Homo sapiens: one gene and its partners. The protein of the gene in region 3 purifies or fractionates together with the protein of the main gene of each other region. This does not show direct contact. Each region holds a gene or a part of one and is shown on either strand. Other genes may lie near its edges. The genes, in order: SGSH, HMGCS1, INSL4 and TESC.

Region 1 (3,500 bases), on a different chromosome or scaffold from region 3:
GATGGGAGTGTGGACGGAAGGGCTGTTGCCACTACTCCCCAGGCTGGCCGGCCACACGGACACGTGTGGGATGTGTCTGGGACATGCCTGGGATGTGTGCACAGGCCTCCTGGGATGGTCACAGCTCATTGTGGAGGGGCTGGCACTGGGGAGAGAGCTTCTCCTCCAGGACGCCGTCGGGGGCGCACACCCAGGGGTCGTGGGTCTCCCACTGCCACTTGGCCAGCTGGTCCCGAAGCATCTCCAGAAGCTGAGCAAAGCGCGGGTCGGTGGCCAGGTTCTGGGTCTCGTGGGGGTCCCGGCTCCGGTCGTAGAGCTCCCAGCGCGCCCGGTAGTAGTAATGACGGAGGTCCTTGTACCAGCCCGTGGGCTGACCAGCTGTGGTGCGGTTCAGGAGGTCCTGGAAGGTGGGTGAGACGTAGAAGTCCTGGTCGATGGGAAAGGGCATCTTGAAGTTGAGGTTGTGCACGAGGCGGAAGTGCCGGTGCTGCACGGAGCGCATGGGGTAGGACATGGTGACCTCGTGGTGGCTCTGGCTGCCAAAGACGGTGGCCCAGAGGGGCTCGGCCTCCAGCGCCGGCAGGAGGGACCGGCCAGTGAGGTGGATGGTCTTCGAGCCAAAGATGGCGTAGCTGGGGTACGGGATCGAGAACCAATCCAAGATGGTGGGCGTGAGGTCTGGAAGGGACGCGGCATCTCAGAGCAGCAGAGCCCTCAGCACACAGGAGCTGCCCTCGGAAGGGCCGAACCTACGCCACTCTGGGCGGCTCCCTTCTCCAATCCAATCAGCAGCGGGAGGTGCCTTGTCGAGCCGACACCTCTCACCGCCACGTCATCTCTCTGGGCCTCAGTGCCTTGAATGGTATAACAAGAGGCCCTGATTCGGTGACATTTAGGATCCTTCTAAAATCCCATGGACTGGAAAAGAAGTCTCCTTTTTGGTAGCTCGTGTACTCCAGCCCCTGTGGTGGGTGTGGCCACAGTGCTCCTGGCTCATCATTTGGGGCCAGAGAGAGATGTGGGCCCCAAGAGAGATGTGGGCCGCGAGCTCGGAGGGAAAGGGAACCTGAGTTTCCTGCTGTCCCGGGCCCACCCCACCTGGAGGCTCTGCCAGGCAGTGGGCAGGACACACGAGCCTCTGCCCTGTGCCGAAGGGGTCACCCCGAGCCCCTCACAAAGTCTTCCTGCACCCGTGTCTTTGTCTGCACATCCATAACATGGGACTAGATGTCCTAGGTCTTTTTAGGAATGAGCAGGGTCATGAGGTGCTTTGGGTCCCCCAGGAAGGCAGGATGGGGTGCACGGATGCTCAGAGAGGGGTCCCCAGGCCCACAGTATCGGCATCACCTGGGAACTTGTCAGACATGCAAATTCTTGAGCCCGCCAAGATCTACTGAATCGGACACCCTGGGATTTGCAATTTGGATATTAACAAGCATCCCAGGTGATTCTGAAGCTCATCGGAGGTAGGCGGGGAAAAGGCAATGGTTTTGAAAGCAGCAGGATCCAGGCGAGAATCCTAGCTTAGTGCTTACCAGCTGTGCAATCCTGAGCAGCTTACTTCACCTCTCTGAGCCTCATTCTTTTCCTCTGTAGAGTGGGAGTGACAGTCCCTTCCTCACCCAGATGATATGAGAGCCACATTAGGTAATGGGTGTGGAGCAGCATCTGACAGGTCATGGCCCCGTCCCAGATCCACTCCCACACCTTTCCTGACGGAGACAGACAAAGGCATACCTAGGAGGCTCACGTAGGCCTCGCTGACTTGGCCCCAGCGTTTTGGGTGCTCCGGGGATGACACCAGTAAGGGTTCAGCAGTGCCCGGCCAGTACAGGTTGGTCCTGCCGCTGGGGAAGGGGATCCCGTTGTCGGACGTGAAGATCACCAGTGTGTCGTTCAGGACACCGGCGTCACGCAGCTCCTGGAGCACCAGTCCAACTCCTGTGGTGAGGGGCCGAGAAGCAGAGCTCAGCCGCAGACACGGAGGGAGGCAGCGGGTGGTGTGTGTAGACCCACCTGCTGCTGCATCCGGCCGCTGGGCTCCAGCGCTTTCCGGATTCGAAAGCACCCTGTAGTTCTTCCCAATGGCCCTGGCTCTTGCCCAGCTCTTGCCCAGCTCCGCCCAGCTCCCATTCCCTGAGCAGGCCTCGAATGGGCCTCCAGGGACTCCAGCCATCCCTTGGCACTTCTGTGTCACCCCCAGGCAGCTGCTCCCTGGTGCCCGCCGGCTTTTGAGTTCTCCGGAATCTCGTGTCTGTCCCATGGAGCAAATAGGGCAGGGGCCAGAGGACGAGGCTTCCTCTATACTCGCTCCTTCCCAGCTGGGGCCAGAGGACAAGGCTTCCTCTATACCCGCTCCTTCCCAGCTCACTAAGAATTAATGGCACCAATAGGGAAATGGCAAAGGTCCTGACCTCCTGTCGTCCCTGACCCCAAAAGACATGTGTGCTGGAATCTGTGAAGGGGTTCTTGTTTGGAAAGGGGAACTTCACGAATAAAGATCTTGGGACAAAATCATCCTGAAGTGCTCAGGTAGGCCCTAAACCCGACGGGGTCCTTATAAGAAGCGGAAACAGGCCGGGCGCGGTGCCTCACACCTGTAATCCCAGCACTTTGGGAGGCTGAGGTGGGCGGATCACGAGGTCAGGAGTTCAAGACCAGCCTGGCCAATGTGGTGAAACCCCGTCTCTACTAAAAATATAAAAATTAGCTGGGCATGGTGGCGTGCGGTGCGATTGCAGTCCTAGCTACTTTGGAGGCTGAGACAGAAAAATCGCTCGAACCTGGGAGGTGGTGGTTGTAGTGAGCCGAGATTGCGCCACTGCACTCCCGCGTGGGTGACAGAGCAAGACTCAGTCTCAAAAAAAAAAAAAAAGAAGAAGTGGAGACACAAAGAGGAGACACAGGAAAAAAGGCCATGTGAAGGCTTCAGCGGGGATGGGGGCGATTCTGCCGCCAGCCCAGGAACGCCCAGCACTGGCACAGCCCCCAGAAGTTGGAAGAGGAAAGGCAGGGTCTCCCCTAGGCCTTCAGGGGAGCATGGCCCTGCTGACACCTTGATTTCAAACTTCTGGCCTCCTGAACTGTGGGAGTACAAATTTTGGTTGCTGTAAGCCATCAACCACAAAAAACTCACAGACCTCAAGATCTCCATCTGCATATGCTAAGGAACTCCAAACCCCCAAATCTGACCCAGGTCCTGTGACTGGAAATATCTGAAGTCTTCACGCAACCTCTGGGGCACCCGAAGGCCCCAGCCCAGGAGCAGGTCCACATCAGGGCAGCCCCGGGGTTGGGTCCTGATGCCACCCACAGGCCCCTCCTCTCAATGTGGGCTCTGCCAGCTGCAGCACAGGGCCTGCCACACTGGGACCCTCACCCACATTATGCCGTGACCTAAGAGGGCGCTGGCCCAGGATGGGGGACCCCGGCCGTGGCACCCCCTCCAGTGCCCGGTTCTGCAAGCCCACCTTGGTCCATGCGGCCGACGGTGGTGTACT
Region 2 (5,811 bases), on a different chromosome or scaffold from region 3:
TTACTGCAACCTCTGACTCCCTGGTTCAAGCCATTCTCCTGACTCAGCCTCCTGAGTAGCTGGAATTACAGGCACGTGCCACCAAGCCCAACTAATTTTTGTATTTTTAGTAGAGACAGGGTTTCACCATGTTGGACAGGATGGTCTTGATCTCCTGACCTCGTGATCTGCCTGCCTCAGTCTCCCAAAGTGCTGGGATTACAGGCGTGAGCCACCGCACCCGGCCTTTACTGTATATTCTTAAAATATTAATAATTCAAATGCAAAGCACTTTATACAATTGGAAATAGTACAGCTAGAATCTACTCCCAGAGCCCTTACTCTTCTTTACTGACATTTATTTATGTTGCTAAATCCCAGTTAGGTCTCCTAAACCCTAAGATATGGAGATGGGAACTCTTTTATTTACCTCAGTTGCTATGTTTGAATGCACAAGTCCTACTCCTTCATCCAAAGTGTCATCATTTGGAGTGGGACGCCGAGCGTAAGTTCTTCTGTGCTTTTCATCCACCCTAACTAAGTACCACGTTCCTTCAAAGAGTGAATCTATTGAACCCTGGGGAATATAGTTGACTAAAGGAAAGGGAGAGAATATCTACAATTAGTTATGATATACAATTCATCTGGTAATAAAGCTAAAGATAAGTTTCATATATCCCAATAATTTTCACTGACATCAGATTAGTACTGAGTAAAGTCTTGATATCCTTATCGTATATGTAGCATCCTTAATGATATCAGCCCTCCAAATGGGTTAACTTAAAGAACATTTAATATTTTTACCCAAATGATGGGTGTCCTCTCTGAGCTTCATGTTTTCAGCGAAGACATCTGGTGCCACACCAGTTCTTGAATCAAGCCTTGATTTAAGATCACATAAACTTGCTGTTATTTTATCAAGAGCAGACCCTAAAATAGTGAATAATTCAACATTAAAAGATTTTTTTGAAAAATCATGTCCAAAAGAAGCCTAAGTAAAATGTTGCCAAATGAGGCAAAACAACTTTTCATTTTCATTAAAACTACTGGCTACTGATTAGTTAAAAGATAAGATGATACCTATTTGACAAATCTCCTATGATGTCAGACTAGAAATCTATTATTGAGTATCTGCCACTAGACAAGTTAGGAAACAGGCATAATTTGAAACTATAAATAACTTGTCTACAATTAATCCATGGTACAATTATTTTATTTTTATTATTTTTTATAGAGATGGGGTCTCACTATGTTGCTCAGGTTGGCCTTGAACATCTGGCCTCAAGCAATCCTCCCACCTCAGCCTCCTGAAGTGTTGGGATTATAGGTGTGAGCCATTGCACCTGGCCCATGGTATAATTTTAAAAAGTAATGTCAAGTTTTCATCAGTTTATCTCTACATTTTTGCTCTTTCCTGCTCAGGGAAAGCACAAAAGTGACCTTAAATATAGCCAAGACCATAAGCCTATAAAAATTAGATAACTTAGTCCTATCCTTTATCCAGATAAGGTAGAATTTTTTTTTTTTTTTTGGATAGATTTTTAGGGCAGAGAGTAAAAACCTACTGAAAGAAGTAATGAAGACTAAAATATTGTAATGATCTGTGGGACAGATTCAGGTGCTCACTTGAGAAGACTGCTAAATCAACTTCCCCAGAGTAGTTCTCAATACATTTTTTTTTTTTTTTTTTGACAGAGTCTCGCTCTGTCACCCAGGCTGGAGCACAGTGGTGTGATCTTGGCTCACCACAACCTCCCTCTCCTGGATTCAAGTGATTCTCCTACTTCAGCCTCCCAAGTAGCTAGGACTACAGGCATGCACCACCTCACCTGGCTAATTTTTGTATTTTTAGTAGAGATGGGGTTTCAGCCATGTTAGCCAGACTGGTCTCGAACTCCTGACCTCAGGTGATCTGCCCGCCTCGGCCTCCCAAACTGCTGGGATTACGGGTGTGAGCCACTGTGCCTGGACTCAGTTCTCAATACATTCTTGTTGAAAGATTCAGCACTTACCCGGTGTAGCATCTTGTGTGACTTTAAGAGAGTACAGAGTGGCAGCCAAACCAGAACCATAAGAAAACACTCCAATTCTCTTCCCTGCTAATTGCTGAGGTGAGTACCTATGTAGGGTGTAACAATAGTTCAGAAGTTTAACTGATCCAAAGCTACAGCGTGTGGGAAGCTATAAAAGTAGCAATAAAAATTTAGGCTATAAGTAAAAGTAGAATCTAACTTAAAGTTTTAAGGATCTAACTCAAAGTGTTAATATTGCAGTAGGGAATATAACTTAGTTTTAATATTGCAGCATGTGAGTTTTCATCTTGTGGGGAATGACAGAGCTTGTGAAAGTCATGCCACAAAACAAGTTACTTCATCAACCAGGTATTTATGGTTCAACTGTAGGTCAAGAATTAAAAAACCATGAAAACAGAAGCCAGGAAAGCCAGTATGAAATTAACAAATACTTCTGGAAGAACTGTAGCCTCAACCCATACATCTTTCAAGTCAATGGACAATAGCAGATTAGAGAGCCTCAAGATAAAATTTTCTGTGATCTACCACCAACATGCTTGACACTAGATTTGGTCTTAGAAATCTAACATCTCCCAAATAAGGGGAGTTAAGTAGTAGGTGAAATTTATACTTACTGTGCTAGAACAGATGCAAGGGAACCATATACTGAAGATGTGTACATATTTCCATTTTGATTTGATACAAGTAAAGATGCCTTTGTTTTCTGACTGAAGAGTTCAGAGCTAGCCTTCATAAATGCCTTCTCCACATCTCTATCAAAGTAGGTGTCTTCTAATTTAACATCCCTGAAAGATTTATTTTACAGTTTTACAGTGTTTAAAGCCTATGTTTTTATTACACTAAACAGCAGGCCTAATTAGGATTCAAATCTTTAAGTGTATATAATTGTTTTCTCATTTATTAAAAGCCAAGTAGCAGCAATCTAATTGCTATAGAAATCATAACAGTTGTATATATATGGTTCTTTTTCTCAAAAGTTTTCATAATCAAGTTAAGCCTGCTTGATTTGAATAGGTTAAAAGACGCACTGTAGCTTTATATTTATATTCACTTATATTGGCTTCAATGAATAGAATATTCAATCAACTGAATATTCATCAACTGAATAGAATACTATTTCAAGTCCATAATAATGTTTATTTAGTTAGAAAAGTCATGGTATTACAGGAGCCAAGTTTTAAAAGTCAAGTATAATTTTATCAGATAGAGAAAGGACACACAAGAGACACAGGGAGAAACAGAACGAGTTGAACACACATAGCATGCTAGGGAGCCTAAAGTGAGAAAAAGACAGGTGGAGTACAAAAGCTGACTTTAGCTGTGGCAGTGTGCAGGATGGAAAAGGGCATGGGGGCAGGGGTGCTGAGAGAGGTAAGGAGTTAAGAGGCTGCTGTAGTGAATATAGGCCCTTGTGCAGTTACTTTATCGTGACAACATGAATGGAGCTGAAAGAAATAAATCAGAAAATCTGAATAGAAATGTCTAAAGAATTTGTGCATGTTAACTACCACCTCTCTGGACTTAGATTCTTCACTGACTGAGACACACAGATTAGACTGGATGACTTCTAAGATTCTTCTGACTCTCAATTTCTCAGGTCTGTACAAATAACAGCTTAACAGATATTAAAAATGCTCTAATATAGAAGGAAAAAACTCATAATAGCTCCTCTTACCCAAAGGCTTCCAGGCCACTATAGATACTATTTTTATCTCTATTCTGGTCATTAAGGAAGTCATTCAGCAACATCCGAGCTAGAGATTTCTGAACCAGTTTACAATATGGTGAGTGAAAGATCATGAAGCCAAAATCATTCAAGGTAAAATCTTTATCATTTCCCTCTGAAAGAGAAGTCCAAGGAAACTATGAAATTCATATAAGCCATGAAATTTTAAAGTTTGACTTTAGAATAAAGCTAGGATATTTGTATATGTTTAAACAGCAACCACAAATACACTGTATAATGAAACCTCTCTATACCTTAAAGTATACATTTAAAAAGACACTCAAAGATGAAACAATATGTACTATGTCACTAATTTTCAAATTTAAGATTCATACACATTAGCAGGTTACATAATCAATTTAGTGGGTCAGGATTAGTATTTTTTTTAAATAAAAGAGTATTTTAAAAAACAAAATGCAGTAGAAAAATAGCAAACTGAATAACTTGCAGCAAGGGTAAGTAATGTCATGACATTTTTGTTTCAGTCTGGCATACACATACAATGTAACATGTACTTCTTACTGTGGGTCCTAATAAAAAAGTTAGAAAACCACTATTCTGTTAATATATACTGCAAGAATGCTTCTTATCCAGAGCGACTAAATTCACTGATATTTGTCATTGAATATGATTTTTAACCCCTTCTCATAACCTCTAAAAAGCAAAGTTGGACTACAGAAAAAGTATACTTTATGTAATAATGTGTTATGATAGCATTAACTCAAATACTGTCCTTTCAGTGCCTCAACAAATTTCCAGATTAATGATAACAGTAAAAAAACAAATACAAATTCACAGGTCAAGTGCAAAAAGATTATTTTTGGGGTAAGATCACTTTAGTAATTCATTTTCATTAGCTTTCCCTGAATCACAGCTGTAGTCCAAAACCTTGTTAAAATACCTCTCTCAAAAGATGAACAAAATTCAACTTACCTTCTTTTCTCCACTTTGATTTTCTTACAAGGGGTAAACCGACCTAAATATTTTTGCAGAGATACACCTCAGTTCCAAAGTTTACCTCTTCTAGTAAATTACACTTTCCCAGAAACTATGGGAAAATGTTGTTTGGTGAATGAGGAATTAATGGTAAAAGGATATTAAATGAAGAATGCCCACAAAGTAGTTGCCTACCAAAGATACCTAGTACATTAGACTGCTCTCAACTCATACCAAAACCAAGGAAAATGGGTAAAACTTACCTTTCTGCCACTGGGCATGGATCTTTTTGCAGTAGACAGAATAGCAGCGGTCTAATGCACTGAGGTAGCACTGTATGGAGAGTTTTCCATCTACTATAGGATATTCAGATAGCATATCAGGCTTGTAAAAATCATAGGCATGTTGCATATGTGTCCCACGAAGCCCTATTAGAACCAAAAAGGAAGATGTCTATATATTTCTGCTTCTTGATGTCTGTATGTTAATAAGTATACTGCATTATCTAAGGACCTTCCTTAACTATCTGATCAATTCTCACCACTTACAGTAGAGAAATCGCAAGCTGAAGCCAATATAAGTGAAATGATACATAACAGTATCCATGGACAGTCCTAAGACTCCTTTGGTATACAACTTTCCATGTCAGTTTCATAACTCTAACAGTTCACAGTTACTCTACTACACTGAAGACAAATTAAAATTGCCAGTGACTATCAGCAAGTTACTATTTATCATTTGAACCCTACATTAACCCACTTCTCTGTAAAGTGGGGATGACACCACCTACCTCATAAAACTGCTATGAAGATTAAATACAGGCCAGGCATGGTGGCTTACGCCTGTAATCCCAGCACTTTGGGAGGTTGAGGGGGGCGGATCACCTGAGGTCAGGAATTCGATGCCAGCCTGGCTAACATGGTGAAACCCTGTTACTAAAAATACAAAAAATTAGCCAGGCATGGTGGTGTGTGCCTGCAATCCCAGCTACTCAGGAGGCTGAGGCAGGAGAATCACTTGAACCTGGGGGCAGAGGTTGCAGTGAGCCGAGATCGTGCCATTGCACTCCAGCTTGGGCAACAAGAGTGAAACTCGGTCTCAAAAAAAAAAAAAAAGAAAAAAAAACATAAATATGAT
Region 3 (6,308 bases):
TTTCCACACATGCTATGCTTCCAGGCCTTTGTGCATTTTCCTGGGCTTCTACTTGTCCCTTTTTGCACTCTCTTCTGCTTAGATGTCTTTCAAGATGCAGATCAGCCATCAGTTTCCTTAGGGAAATTTTGCTCTCTCCTCTTACCTACACTGTTCCCTGTATATTTATTCTTTCACATGTTGGCATTAAACACGACCCTGATTCCTGTGGATCATTACAGTCTCTATGATGACCTACAAGTATCATTGCACTTATTATCCTTTGCTTCTCCATGTCCCACACTAGATTCAGAGCACTTTATGGGCAGGCACAGGGGGCTACTCAAATCATGCCACTTGAATTAAGTTTATAGGACCTGATAATGAGGTAGTAGCAGCTTCAGTTAGCCTGCAAACAAACAAACACAACTAGTAGAACCTCACTGACAGAGTATAAAATGTACTCTTTGATTTAGGATTTAGAGACACATAGGGAGGAGGTATGTGTAGCCAGAGGAATGCCAGTATTTGTGCCAATTCACCACTTTGATGAGGGGATGTGGAGTAATGCCAGGGACAAAAGAGGAGTTTATAGAATGATTGAAGGTCTAAAGGCAGCGTGCTGAGAGGCAGGTGGAGGATATGCATTGGGCAAAGTTCTAGGGAGGTCTCTGGGTTTACCCTAGGGTGAACATGCCTAATACCTCTCCCACCAGTTCATTCCTTCACTGCTTTTCCTCCGTACTATGAGCTGATGTTAGAGATGGTTAGATCCTTTATCTCTTACATTTCTTCTAGTGTGAAAAGAGGAAAAATGAAGAGACTTGAGTGAGTGTGTGTGAACGTATGTGTTTATGTGTGTAAAACTTTAAAAATTTATTTCCAGTAAGTTTGTAGTTCACATATTACAGTTATACACATTTTTGTAGTACATGTGATATTTTGATACGTGTATATAATGTGTAATGATCAAATCAGGGTAATTGGGATATGCATCCAAACTAACATTCATCTTTTTTGTGTTGGAATCATTACAATTCTCTTCTAGCTATTTTGGAATATACAGTGAATTATTGTTAAGTATAATTTCCCCATTGTACTATCAACTACTAGAACTTATTCCATCTATCTAACTTCCTCCATTTGGAGAGACTATATTAGTACAGAGCAAGTGAAACATGTGAATACTAATAATGATTCTCATGTTCTAATAAACAGCAATCATTTAATTGGGCATCAGTGAATTTGTCATTGAGAATACATATGAGAATGGATGAGATGTCCAGTCCATGATTACTCTACTATGTACATAATTTAACTGAAGTTCCATCGTCACAAATTACTTCACAACAGAATGGATCAAATCTGTGACGTCCACTTCTCTTTTTGCGGGAAAGTATTATTTTCTTCAATGATGGCTGCCCTTCAGACAGTGGTTTCTTCAGCTCTGGTGACAAATTAGGAATGAATTCTGATGTCGTACCTAAGGCTTGTCCATCTTTGTTGTTGGAGGTTGACACCATTTCTGTGAAGTAAAAGAGAGGAATGAAAGGTGAGGAAAAACATTCATGTGAAAGAGGATCAGAAAAATTATACAATTTGCCTAGACCACAATGTACCCATTGCCTCCATGTAATTAAACACCAGAGAGAATCAGCAAGTATCCTAACATTTCAACAACTTAGCTTACTTAGAGTAGGGCACTTTAAGATACTACAATATTAAGGATATGCTAACTCCTCATCCTGTCCCCTCTATGCACTCTTCTAATGACCCTCTAAATGCCTATACCATACCACTTTTGACTCTCCCTGACACTGTTTTGATTGATAACCTCAATGCATTATGTACTGGATAGCAATAGGGAATTTTTTTTATAATCACAAGTTATTCTAATAGAAAGATTCAGATATTCAAATCTGATCCACATAAATCTATACATCTATATCAGTGGATCTTAGCTAAAAGGCTGAGAAGCAACATACATCTATATGTGTCGACACCAAATGTTAACATTTGTTATCCATGAATACTTTCCATTTTTCTTGTTAAATTTATCTATATTTGTCAAAGTATTTAAATGAGGATTTTCACTTATTTACTGAAAAAAAGTGAAATTTAAATAGAAATTATAGTACAGCATGCTCTTCCTTAGTTTGCATTAGAAATTGTTTGGACTTTGTGGTATTCTTCCCTTATTTTATAGTAAAATGAAACAAGCTCTGACTAATAATGTAAAAAAAGGAAATAACTTTGAAATCGTTATATAAATCACACAAAATCCAAGTGCATTCACTGTGCACGATAACTTTAAACAGAGTCATTTAATGATTTAATGAAGTGTATGCATATGGGTTACAAGAAGCAGTTCTGGAGTCACACATTGCTGGTTCAAAACCTGTGTCATTTGTATTAAATGTAAAACAATGTTTAGTAATTTAACTTAGCTTTTCAGAACTTAATACGACCTATTAGACAGAATATAGTAGCCTCTATCTCTTTTCGAAACTGCCCCTGCTAGTTTTAACTTAGCTGGCAATTTATCTTTATGAATACCTTGTTACTTGGTAAAGTTTGAAAACTATCCTGGTATTGAACTTTCCTCAATTCTGAAATCTTGCTTTTAAAGAAAATGCTTTGCAGTCTCAAATGTTGAAAACACTAATCAAATCAGCTATGATGGTCTGAACAGTGAAATTCCCTTGTCTCTGGTCCCCTTCAATTTCCCCTCTAGTCATCCAGGCCACTTTCTTTCTCTTCATCTCATCTCTCTCAACACACTACAAGAGTAGATTCAAAGAAATGGGAGGCAAGGTGCTCTGTTGGTGTGCATTAAAAAAAACTTTTTTGTAAGAGGACGTTTTTGGTGACATAGACCACTGCCCAGCTTAATGACAAAGGATGAGAGTTATTAAATCTAAGCCCCCTTTATCTCACATTCCAGGAACCTAACAGAGGTCTCAGTGTGCTGCCCCTAGGCCAATAGGTGCATAAACAGAAATGATAATCAGCTCATCACCTCACTGTTTGTCCCCTTTCTTCTTAATTGAAGATGCCTGGCCCAGGCATCTCATTGCAATCACACCTGTTTTCTGGCCTGCCCAGCTTTCCTGGGGGTCTGGGAGTACACCTCACCTCCTGCTGGTGTTTGAGAATAGTCACCTTCTCTGAGGATTCCCTGTTTTCTCCACCCTGTATCTCTGGCTGCCAGGTGGGAAAGGCACCAAGAGCCTCCAAGGTGAGGCTGTTCTTCTGTTTTTCCTGCAGCTTCTCCTCTACCCCCAACTTCCCATGAGATTTCTGGTGAGACCCTTTTAATAAAAGCACATTACAATGAAAAACCACAAACTTGTAGGCACTAGCCACAGTAGAGTCTGAGTTGACTACAGGCAGTCAATGAGATCTGGAGCCTGTTTTTTCAGGCCTCATTCTGATTGTTTGGTAGTCCAGGGCTCTCACCTTTGGGACGTCCAGATTCCAGCAGCCACCCTCCTGGGGTGGTGGTGAATGTCTTCTCAGGCATGGGGCAATATGACAGCAAGTGTTTTCCAAATCGGGGACCACATCCCCTCAGCTCTGCTGCTAGGCTTTCTCTAAGGAGTTGGCTCAGCAGCAGCCAGATTGCTGGCAGATAGGACCGGAACAGGCTGGCCATCCTGGACCTGAACTCTCCTGTTCTGGGTGTTCTCAGCCTTTCTTTAGAGACTTGCTGCTGTAGCCTACCAGACTGTGCTGGTGTGTCCCTTCTGGGCTCCAGACTGCTTTCTGCATGCCTTCATCAGGCATTTATTTGCTTAGGGCTATTACTCAGCTTTTGCGTCAATGGTGTCAGTTCCACCCCTTTCCCACCCACCTACAAGGAACTTTCTCCCTCAGTTCTTATTTAGTCTCCCTACTTGCCCTACCCACACTCTCATATCCCTCTTTGCTCCCAATGTGCTGCTGCACTTTGCTTGTTTTGAATTTGGTTGTTCTACTTCTTTTTCTTAACTTTCCTCCTGTAATACTATTTTTATGCTTACTAAAATAATGGTAATTTTTAATGTCCTTTGCTTAGATGAAATAAAAATAGAACTGACCTGTAAGCTCATTGGCTAGAAATTATCTTAGTTAACATTTGGCATATAAGCTTTTAATTGCGGGGGTCTGTCCCACAGACCCTGACCCAACGACGGATGAATAACATACACTGACACAGATAGTTTGCCTGTCAGTCCAGCTGAGGGTCCGGGCCACCTACAGACACCAAGGAGGGTGCTGTAAAGAGTTGCAGCCGTGGCCCCGATCAGCCAGCAAAGCTCACATTTATTCAGCATAGATTAAATGACGAAGGTCTTGAGTAAACACCACTAGAAGGTAATTGACATTGCCAACCTCCCGAGTAGAGAGCAATTATGCACCCGCGGTTGATCAAAGATTAGTCTTAGGACCACATGAGTAAACAAACTAGATAAACTACATTCATTTGTATCTGTGCCTTAAGCTATTAACTCAAGGTAAGGATTAGGCTGCCTTCAGCCTGATCTATTACTGGAGCTTATACAAACCCCTCCGGCGTTTCAAAAAGGTTTGCGTCTTTTTCTTATAACTATCTGAAAAAATTTTCCCACCAGCCTGACTGAACTCTCACATCTCCCCCCTTTCTGTTCTTTGCATCGGGTTCTGTTGACTTAAGAGTACAGATGTGTGCAGCAACAGGTTTGTTAGGTTTTGCTTTTATTCCGGCTTTGCATCATAGAATTAGCAAATAACGTAAGACAATCATGAGTATAATTAGTAACATTCCTTTCCAGTCAAAGTGTGACCCCCAGGATCGGGGGTATAACCAGGAGAAATGATCTTGCACACCTTTCCATATGGCTGTTTGTTGAGTATGTAGATCTATCATGTGAAGGGATTCTAAAATTTTAGTTTTAAGTTGCTTTACGTCTGCTGTTAAATTGTCATGAAAGTTTCCCCAGAGGTGTTGTTTCACCTCATCCCAACTATGTATTGATTGATTCCAAGGTAAAAATGTGACACAGATATGTTTATGCTCCCAGTCACAGTTTAATTGCTATCAGAATGCTAGGGCATCTTGTCGCTCCCCCACAAATTCCAAGGCAGCCTCGAGGGCTTGCAGACGTGCAAGAATCTCTTGATCTATACCCTGCTGTAAGAGAAGTTCATTAGACACATTTCTGGCCAAATTGTCTACAAAAGCAGCTGTTTGCACTGATTCGGTAGTAGATGCTATAGCCACACTAGCAGTTGCTAGGATGACTATGGCTGAGACTATAAAGGTTATAAGTGTGCCTATAAATCTTTTGGGTCTGACCTGGGATAGGGCACATTCTAAGGTGGCAAAGGAAGAGGAACCTTGCCAATAGTGTGTCAAATTGACGGGTAGGAATGCCTCAGATTGTCTCCTTAATACCATGACACTAGTAGTATTTAAATTAGATATATTGTAATTAGTGGTACATGAGGCAAACAAAGCCTGTCCTTGCACCCGGGTCACAAACATGGAATTTTGGGTTGTAATAGAAATATTAGTTCCCATAAGGAAAACATATGGATGGAGTTGCAAATTAGGGACTGATCAGTGTGATTATGAATAAAGGTTATAGTATAGTTGTTACTGTAATTATGATATGTCCCATGCCAGGTGTCAAGGGAGGTGCTAAGATGTCCCAGGCAACATAAAGTGTCTTGGGGAGGCATCAACTTTACTCGGGGTCTGGGATATCCTATCCTCCCATCGGCCCAAATCATAAGGGAATGGGACGAGGCTATGAAACTGTGATCGATGCCATGATGGATGAGGATATCAGTAAGGCTGCCCTACAAATGGCCACAGGGGCTCCAGTCTAGGATGTTATAATTGCCTAACTGGAGGCTATGAGCTTATTCCCCATGACAGATCTCCCAGCTAAAGTGGAATCCGTTATTTTTCCGGCTTTGTTCTTTAGCACAGGAAGGAATGTTTGGGAAAGCAGACTTGATTTCCGTTTTGAGGCTACCTGCAGCTAAGACTGTTAAGGCACTTCTTTTGCCATGATGTAGCCATAATTGTGTTTCAGTAGGTGCACACTAAGGGTTAGAACATTTATAATTTACACACAATGGGAGGATAGTAGAGTGATCTGTAGTGTTATCTGGCACCTTAGTCCAATGTGTGCCATTATTGAGGAACCCCACTGGGGGTAAATCTATCCCTCCTAGCTAAGCAGTCACGTTATTAAAGGCTGGGAAGGGGTTGTATACCCAAGTGACAGGGCAAAAGAAAAGTGGATCTAAGATATGAGCCCAATAGAGTGTAGACATTGCCACCCTCCCGAGTAGAGAGC
Region 4 (5,811 bases), on a different chromosome or scaffold from region 3:
AAAAGACTAAAGATGATGAAGGGGGAAAAAAGCAACAGTGAATCAGGAAAGATTTTGAGAGTGGGCGAGTGGGTGTCTTTCAGAGCATCTAAGAAACAGGTTTTCACAGCCTTCCAGAACTATCTTCAGTTCCAGATTTATCCTGAGGCCAAATCAAGCATAAACAGGCTTATCTAAAGTACAAGGTTGGCCGGGCACAGTGGCTCATGCCTGTAATCCCAGCGCTTTGGGAGACTGAGGCGGGTGCATCACTGGAGGCCAGGAGTTTGAGACCAGCCTGGCCAACATGGCAAAACCCCGTCTCTACTAAAAATACAAAAATTAGCTGGGCGTGGCGGCGCATGCCTGTAATCCCAGCTACTCAGGAGGCTGAGGCACAAGAATCACTTGAACCTGGGAGGCGGAGGTGGCAGTGAGCCGAGATTGTGCCACTGCACCCCAGCCTGGGCGACAGAGTGAGACTCTGTCTCAAAAAAAAAAAAAAAATGTACAAGGCTTACTTCAGTAGGACACTTAGATCAGGAATTTCAGGTCCTGCTACTTGGATATAATACAGATTCTACCTTCCATTACAAACACTGGATAAAACAAGAAACAAATGTAATGTCCAGCTAAATGGAAGGAAAGGGCAATACCCAAGTGCCAGGGGCAAGGAAGAGACCAGGAACCAGCAGGGTTAGTGACAGATGCTGCTGAGGTGGCCCAGGTGTTAGAATGGTTTCAGGCTCCAACAGCTAAGGGTGGGGACTTCAAGTCCACTGAGTGACAGAAGAGGCCTTGGGTCTGCATGAACTGGAGCTGAGACCCCTCTAAAAAGCTGAAATACAAAAGGCTGCCTCTGCACATCAGGTGGGTCAGAAAAAACGTTCCCCACTGGCCCAGAGAATAATAAGACAGCCATCTCTGCTAGGGAGACGGCAGGGGAAAGAGCAGGCTTCTGCAATGAATCCAAACTCCAAGACTGAGCCACACACTGGTGAAAAATCCAAGTCTCTGTGGGGCAGGAGACCCAAACCAAGGAGTTAATGTGAAAAGTGTTTTCAGACTGGTGAAAAGCTTGAGACACCTAGCACAAGAAATGCAAATGCACTGTGTAAGGCTCTTCTAAAACCCAGGGCACACAGGAATCCTGTGGGGTGGTAGGGGGAAGGGCCAAGGGGAGTTGGGAAAAAGCCCAAAGATGAGCTTATAATCAAAAAACCAAACCATACAAGCAAATGAACCACCATAAGGGAGAACAGCAGACACAATTAACAAAAGGAATAGCACTCCAAGAAGGCAAAACAGAAGAGACTATATAGTAGGCTTTAAATTATTACAAACAATGGAAGAACCATACCCTATGAAAAAGAGGTGAATTTGAAAACTATATAGCACTTATAAACTTTTTTTATAAGTCATTGCAATTTTTTGAAATTTAATAGGTTAAGGCAGCAAGGTTGTAATAGCTGAAGAGAGAATTAGTGAACTGGAAGATGGATCTAAGGAAATGACCCAGCTGAAATAAAAAGAAAATATGAAAGAAAGATTAAGAGGCATGCAGACAGAATGAGATGAACCAACATTTGTCTAATAGGAATTACTAATGAAGAAGATAAAGAGAAAGGGGAGAGATAATATTTTCATAATGGAAGATATGATCTTTCTTTAGAATCAAACAACATAAACCATTCCCAGGATAAATAAAAATAAATCCACACCCAGACATAGCATGTACAAAACACCAATGACAAAAATTTTAAAACAGGGAAAAGGGAAAATAGGTTTCTACAAAGAAATGTCGATTAGACTAACAGCTGATTTCTCAACAGCAACAAGACCAAAAACGAATCGCTGAAAAAAAAAAAATCCAGCAACCTTATATTTTACACACAGCCAAATGTTCATTCATGCATGCCTGCAAAATAACAATATTTCCAAAGTTTACAACTCACAGAGCCTCACTGAAAAATCTACAGAAACATGCATTAAATAAGAAAACTATATCCATAAGGAAGAGTGGTTGCAAGAATTAATAGTGTCTGCATAGAATAATAATGAATATGTAGGTTCTTAAGTACTATGGAGTGATACAAATTAAAGTACATTAAGGTCCCCAATTATGAGCACAAGGGCAGAGATGGTGATTAAGTTTAGGCATGTCCAAGATAGCAGACATATAAAAAATGAAATGAATTACTAAAAAAAGTTATAGCATGCCTTTTAAAAGGAGATACATAGCCAGCTCCTGAAGTGTTCCCAGTTGAAATGATTAGTAACTGCCAGTAACTCTCAAGCACTGAGGATGGGTCAAGAGCTTTGCCCAAATTCTAACTTAATCCTCGCAACATTCAGTGAAACAGGTTCTATTTTTGCTGTCATTTTACAGATGAAGAAACTGAGGCTCAGGGAGGCAAAGTGCTTTGCCTAGACAGTAAGAGGCAATACCATGATATAAACCCACATCTATCTGCTGGAAAAGGACAGGTGGTGAGAAGCCACCTGTGTGCCATAGTGGGACTCTGGCTGAGGTCCTTGGGGGGATGCAGGCAAGGGCAAGAACCCCCTTAGAACTACCAGGTGGGTGAGGCCTGCAAAGTGCTGGGTATTTGCTCAGGGTTCTCTGATCATTGGGATTCTGGCACAGGTGCTCAGGAGGAGCTTAGGGAACCCTCTTCCAACCTCAGCACCTGGGGCAAGCTGGCCTCTGCAGCCCACCTTTGGCCTCTACAGCCCCCCTTTGAGGACTGCTGTCTCCGGCCTGGCCACCTGCCCTCCTCCTGGAGGCACCTGGGCCCTGAGACCTCCACTAACCTGCCAGGGAGCAGTGCCAAGAACGGAAGGCTTGCTCCTGACAGAGTGCCGGTCTGCAAAGGTCACACTGCTGGGACGACAAAGAGCCTTTTTGTCCTAGTGCTCCGTGGCCACCACCACCAGCGGAAATCACCCACTCGACCTTCTGGTTTTATAAATTAATAATTAAGCTGGAGCAGGCAACAGGAAGGCTGGCAGGACCAGGGGTGCCCAGGCCCTCACCCTGTACAGTCACACCAGCATGGACAAAAGAACAAAAGAGGCCCTGAGTTTTCTTCCCAGAACTGTGAGCCCTTCTGAGCTGAAAACACCTCATTCCCTCAGCTCGAGATAACAGATCCTAAAGTGCTTTGCAAAGGGAAGAGCATCTTATCAACACCCAGGTTATTCTGTTTGTCTTACTGGGCCGTATGGCATGTCTGAGAGTTGATTAAATTTCCACGATACATTCTGGAGACCATTAACTCACAAAAAAATATCCTGCCAGGATGGCAGTAGGGGAGGCAAGAAAGAAAGATGCAGCGGGGATCTAATTACCACCAATCTGCGGAGCGAGGACGTCTTGGAGAGGACTGCCAGTGGCTTGCACAGAGAAAACACAAATTCTTTTGAAACAGACCTGAGCCACCCAGTGAGACCCTAGGAAACAGAGGGGGCGGCACCCTCCTGCCTCTTCCTCCCAGCCGTGGTCCCCACTCCCCTCCCACTGCCCACTACTGAGCTTGTTCTCCCTGGGGGCAACCCACCTAGATTCCAGAACTTTCCACATCACCCAGAACCAATCCTATCTGCCTCAAGGTTCAGTTCTCCCCTTGCCGACTTGGTAAACAATGTGTGGAACTCTACTGACGAGGTTGTGGGGTAACAGCATGGCCTCCCCCAGATCACACAGATGTGCCGACTCTCAGAGTCTCAGTCCAGAGCATGTGGGGTTCTCGGCATGCGGGAGAGGCGGTTTCTCCCGGCACTGCACTTGGCAAATCCCACTAGAAGGCCTGGTTTTGAGTCTGGATTCCCTACCCAGCAACTAAGTGATCTTGGGCAGTCATTTCCTCTGTCCAAACCTCAGTTTGCCCATCTATAAACTGGCAGCAATAGTCCCACCCTCAAAGGGCTTTTCGGCAGATCAGATGATTGACAAGTGCTCAAGAAAGAGCAGCTGTCACCTCATTCACAGCTGGCTGCGTTTTTTAAGGAGCGGAACTGGTGGCTCAAAGAAGGACACAGCCTGGATGAGACATCTGAGCGAAGTGGCACAGGACGGCTCCAGCACCGAGCTCAGTGCACATGGAACGCCATCCTCCAGGGTCCCGCTCTGTGGCTGCGACAGATGGTGAGATGATGGGGCCCAGGTGAACAGAATGAAAAATACCAGCATGGGCTAGAGCAGGCAGGTGCCTTTGGTTGATCCCCAGCCCTGTGGGAAGCTTCCACAGCGGGCATTCTCCTGCAAGTTTCCCCTGTGAGCCCCCAGAGAGGAGGGCAGGGGAGGCCTGGAAGCCCCCATCCAGTCAAGGCAGAAAGGGTTCCAGAGGCTGGGGGGGTCCCATGATCTGGACCACTTTGTGGATGACTCCAGGCCAGGGTCTCCCCCCGCCCCAGAGCTCAGCATACAGGACTGGTCCTTCCCCCTGGTTTCACGGACACATTCATTCCTCCTCTGCTGAGGAGCCACTGTCTGAGGAGGGAGCCTGAGGTGGGAGGATCACTTGAGCCTTGGAGTTAGAGGCTGCAGTGAACTGTGATTGCACCACTATGCTCCAGCCTGGGCAACAGAGCAGGGCCATCTCAAAAACAAATTAATTTTAAACAATCAATAAAAGTAATTGTTTGAATCATTTTCTTACTGAGGCATGATTTCCATACAATGGAAAACACTTCACTGTTCAGAGACCCTAACAAGGGCAGAGGGCCCTCCCCAGAGGCACTCAGACAATTCCACATCCTATTTCATGGGGTTCATGGACTCCCTGAAGATGCCAGGGGAAAAGCCACAACCTAGCCCAGAGGAAGAGAAAAGGCACGGGGGACTGGCTGGTTGGCTGTTCAGCTTACCAAGCTTTGGCGGACGACAGAACAGTGTGGAGCTGGCTGGTCCACCCTGGCCCATCAGACCCTTCCTCCCGCTATGCTACAGTTGTTGGGGTGCTCCCCTGTCCCCCTGGAACCCCTGAGCTTCTGGAGGGCAGGGACCGCATCTGGTCCACCCTGGTAGCAGAATATGGCAATTGGTGAATGAGCCGAGGCCACCGTCTGAGGCCACTTAAAGACTTTAGAACCAAGAAGTATTACCCAGGGGCGAGAACGCAGTGGAGAAACCAGCGCCACCCCCACCAGCCACGCTTGGCTACGCCAGTCCTCCCTGCCATCTCTAGCTCCTTCTCCAAATGAGATTAGACCAGGAATGGAATCCGACTCTCTTTTTTTCTTTGGAGACAGTCTCGCACTGTCACCCAAGCTGGAGTGCAGTGGCACCAACTCCTGGGCTCAGGCGAACCCCCTGCCTTGGCCTCCCAAAGTGCTGGGATTACAAGCATGAGCCACCGCACCAGCCTGCGACTCTACTTCTCATTATGATGCCTGTGGCCTTGGGCAGGCACCTCCTCTCTTGAGCCTCAATGTCTGCATCTGTAAAATGGGAAACCAACCGTGTTCCTGGGAGGATTCCATCAGCTACTGCGGATACGCTGCCTGGCTCAGCTGAACGTGTGGCAGATGCCACGCGCCCGAGAAACATTAGCTCTTACCATCATGAGGTCTGAACTCTAGGTCTGGAGATTTTTTTTTTTTTTTTCCTTTTCCTTCTGGCAGCTTCTTGGCATCAACATAGACATGCCTGAAGAGCTGTTTTGGAGCCTGAAGGAAAAAACAGACCCTCCACCTTTCCCAGAATCCTCTGTCTTATTATTTCCTTTCCAACTCCAGGAGCAGACACGGATGGGGGGGACAGGAAGTGGGGCCAGCTCAAGGTGGTGAAGGACAACTGACTCAGGTGAATAATTCCCAAGAAGCCCTTCT

The links.
Region 1: the proteins of INSL4 (region 3) and SGSH purify together in Homo sapiens (affinity purification with mass spectrometry; one large-scale study listed by BioGRID and IntAct). This does not show direct contact.
Region 2: the proteins of INSL4 (region 3) and HMGCS1 purify together in Homo sapiens (affinity purification with mass spectrometry; one large-scale study listed by BioGRID and IntAct). This does not show direct contact.
Region 4: the proteins of INSL4 (region 3) and TESC purify together in Homo sapiens (affinity purification with mass spectrometry; one large-scale study listed by BioGRID and IntAct). This does not show direct contact.

Annotation. Positions count from the first base shown.
Region 1 is NC_000017.11:80,210,334-80,213,833, forward strand, and holds part of SGSH (N-sulphoglucosamine sulphohydrolase isoform 1 precursor), read right to left. Parts: coding exon 3,471-3,500; intron 1,942-3,470; coding exon 1,738-1,941; exon of another isoform or gene 1,591-1,737; coding exon of another isoform or gene 1,536-1,590; intron 855-1,535; coding exon of another isoform or gene 715-854; exon of another isoform or gene 679-714; coding exon 119-678; 3' UTR 1-118. UniProt on the Homo sapiens protein: Catalyzes a step in lysosomal heparan sulfate degradation.
Region 2 is NC_000005.10:43,292,065-43,297,875, forward strand, and holds part of HMGCS1 (hydroxymethylglutaryl-CoA synthase, cytoplasmic), read right to left. Parts: intron 5,103-5,811; coding exon 4,938-5,102; intron 3,854-4,937; coding exon 3,688-3,853; intron 2,798-3,687; coding exon 2,627-2,797; intron 2,099-2,626; coding exon 1,992-2,098; intron 910-1,991; coding exon 784-909; intron 574-783; coding exon 410-573; intron 1-409. UniProt on the Homo sapiens protein: Catalyzes the condensation of acetyl-CoA with acetoacetyl-CoA to form HMG-CoA, which is converted by HMG-CoA reductase (HMGCR) into mevalonate, a precursor for cholesterol synthesis.
Region 3 is NC_000009.12:5,228,850-5,235,157, reverse strand, and holds the start of INSL4 (early placenta insulin-like peptide precursor), read right to left. Parts: upstream 3,740-6,308; 5' UTR 3,635-3,739; coding exon 3,439-3,634; intron 1,505-3,438; coding exon 1,281-1,504; 3' UTR 1-1,280. UniProt on the Homo sapiens protein: May play an important role in trophoblast development and in the regulation of bone formation.
Region 4 is NC_000012.12:117,088,211-117,094,021, forward strand, and holds part of TESC (calcineurin B homologous protein 3), read right to left. Parts: intron 5,479-5,811; exon of another isoform or gene 5,464-5,478; coding exon of another isoform or gene 5,442-5,463; intron 1-5,441. UniProt on the Homo sapiens protein: Functions as an integral cofactor in cell pH regulation by controlling plasma membrane-type Na(+)/H(+) exchange activity. Promotes the maturation, transport, cell surface stability and exchange activity of SLC9A1/NHE1 at the plasma membrane.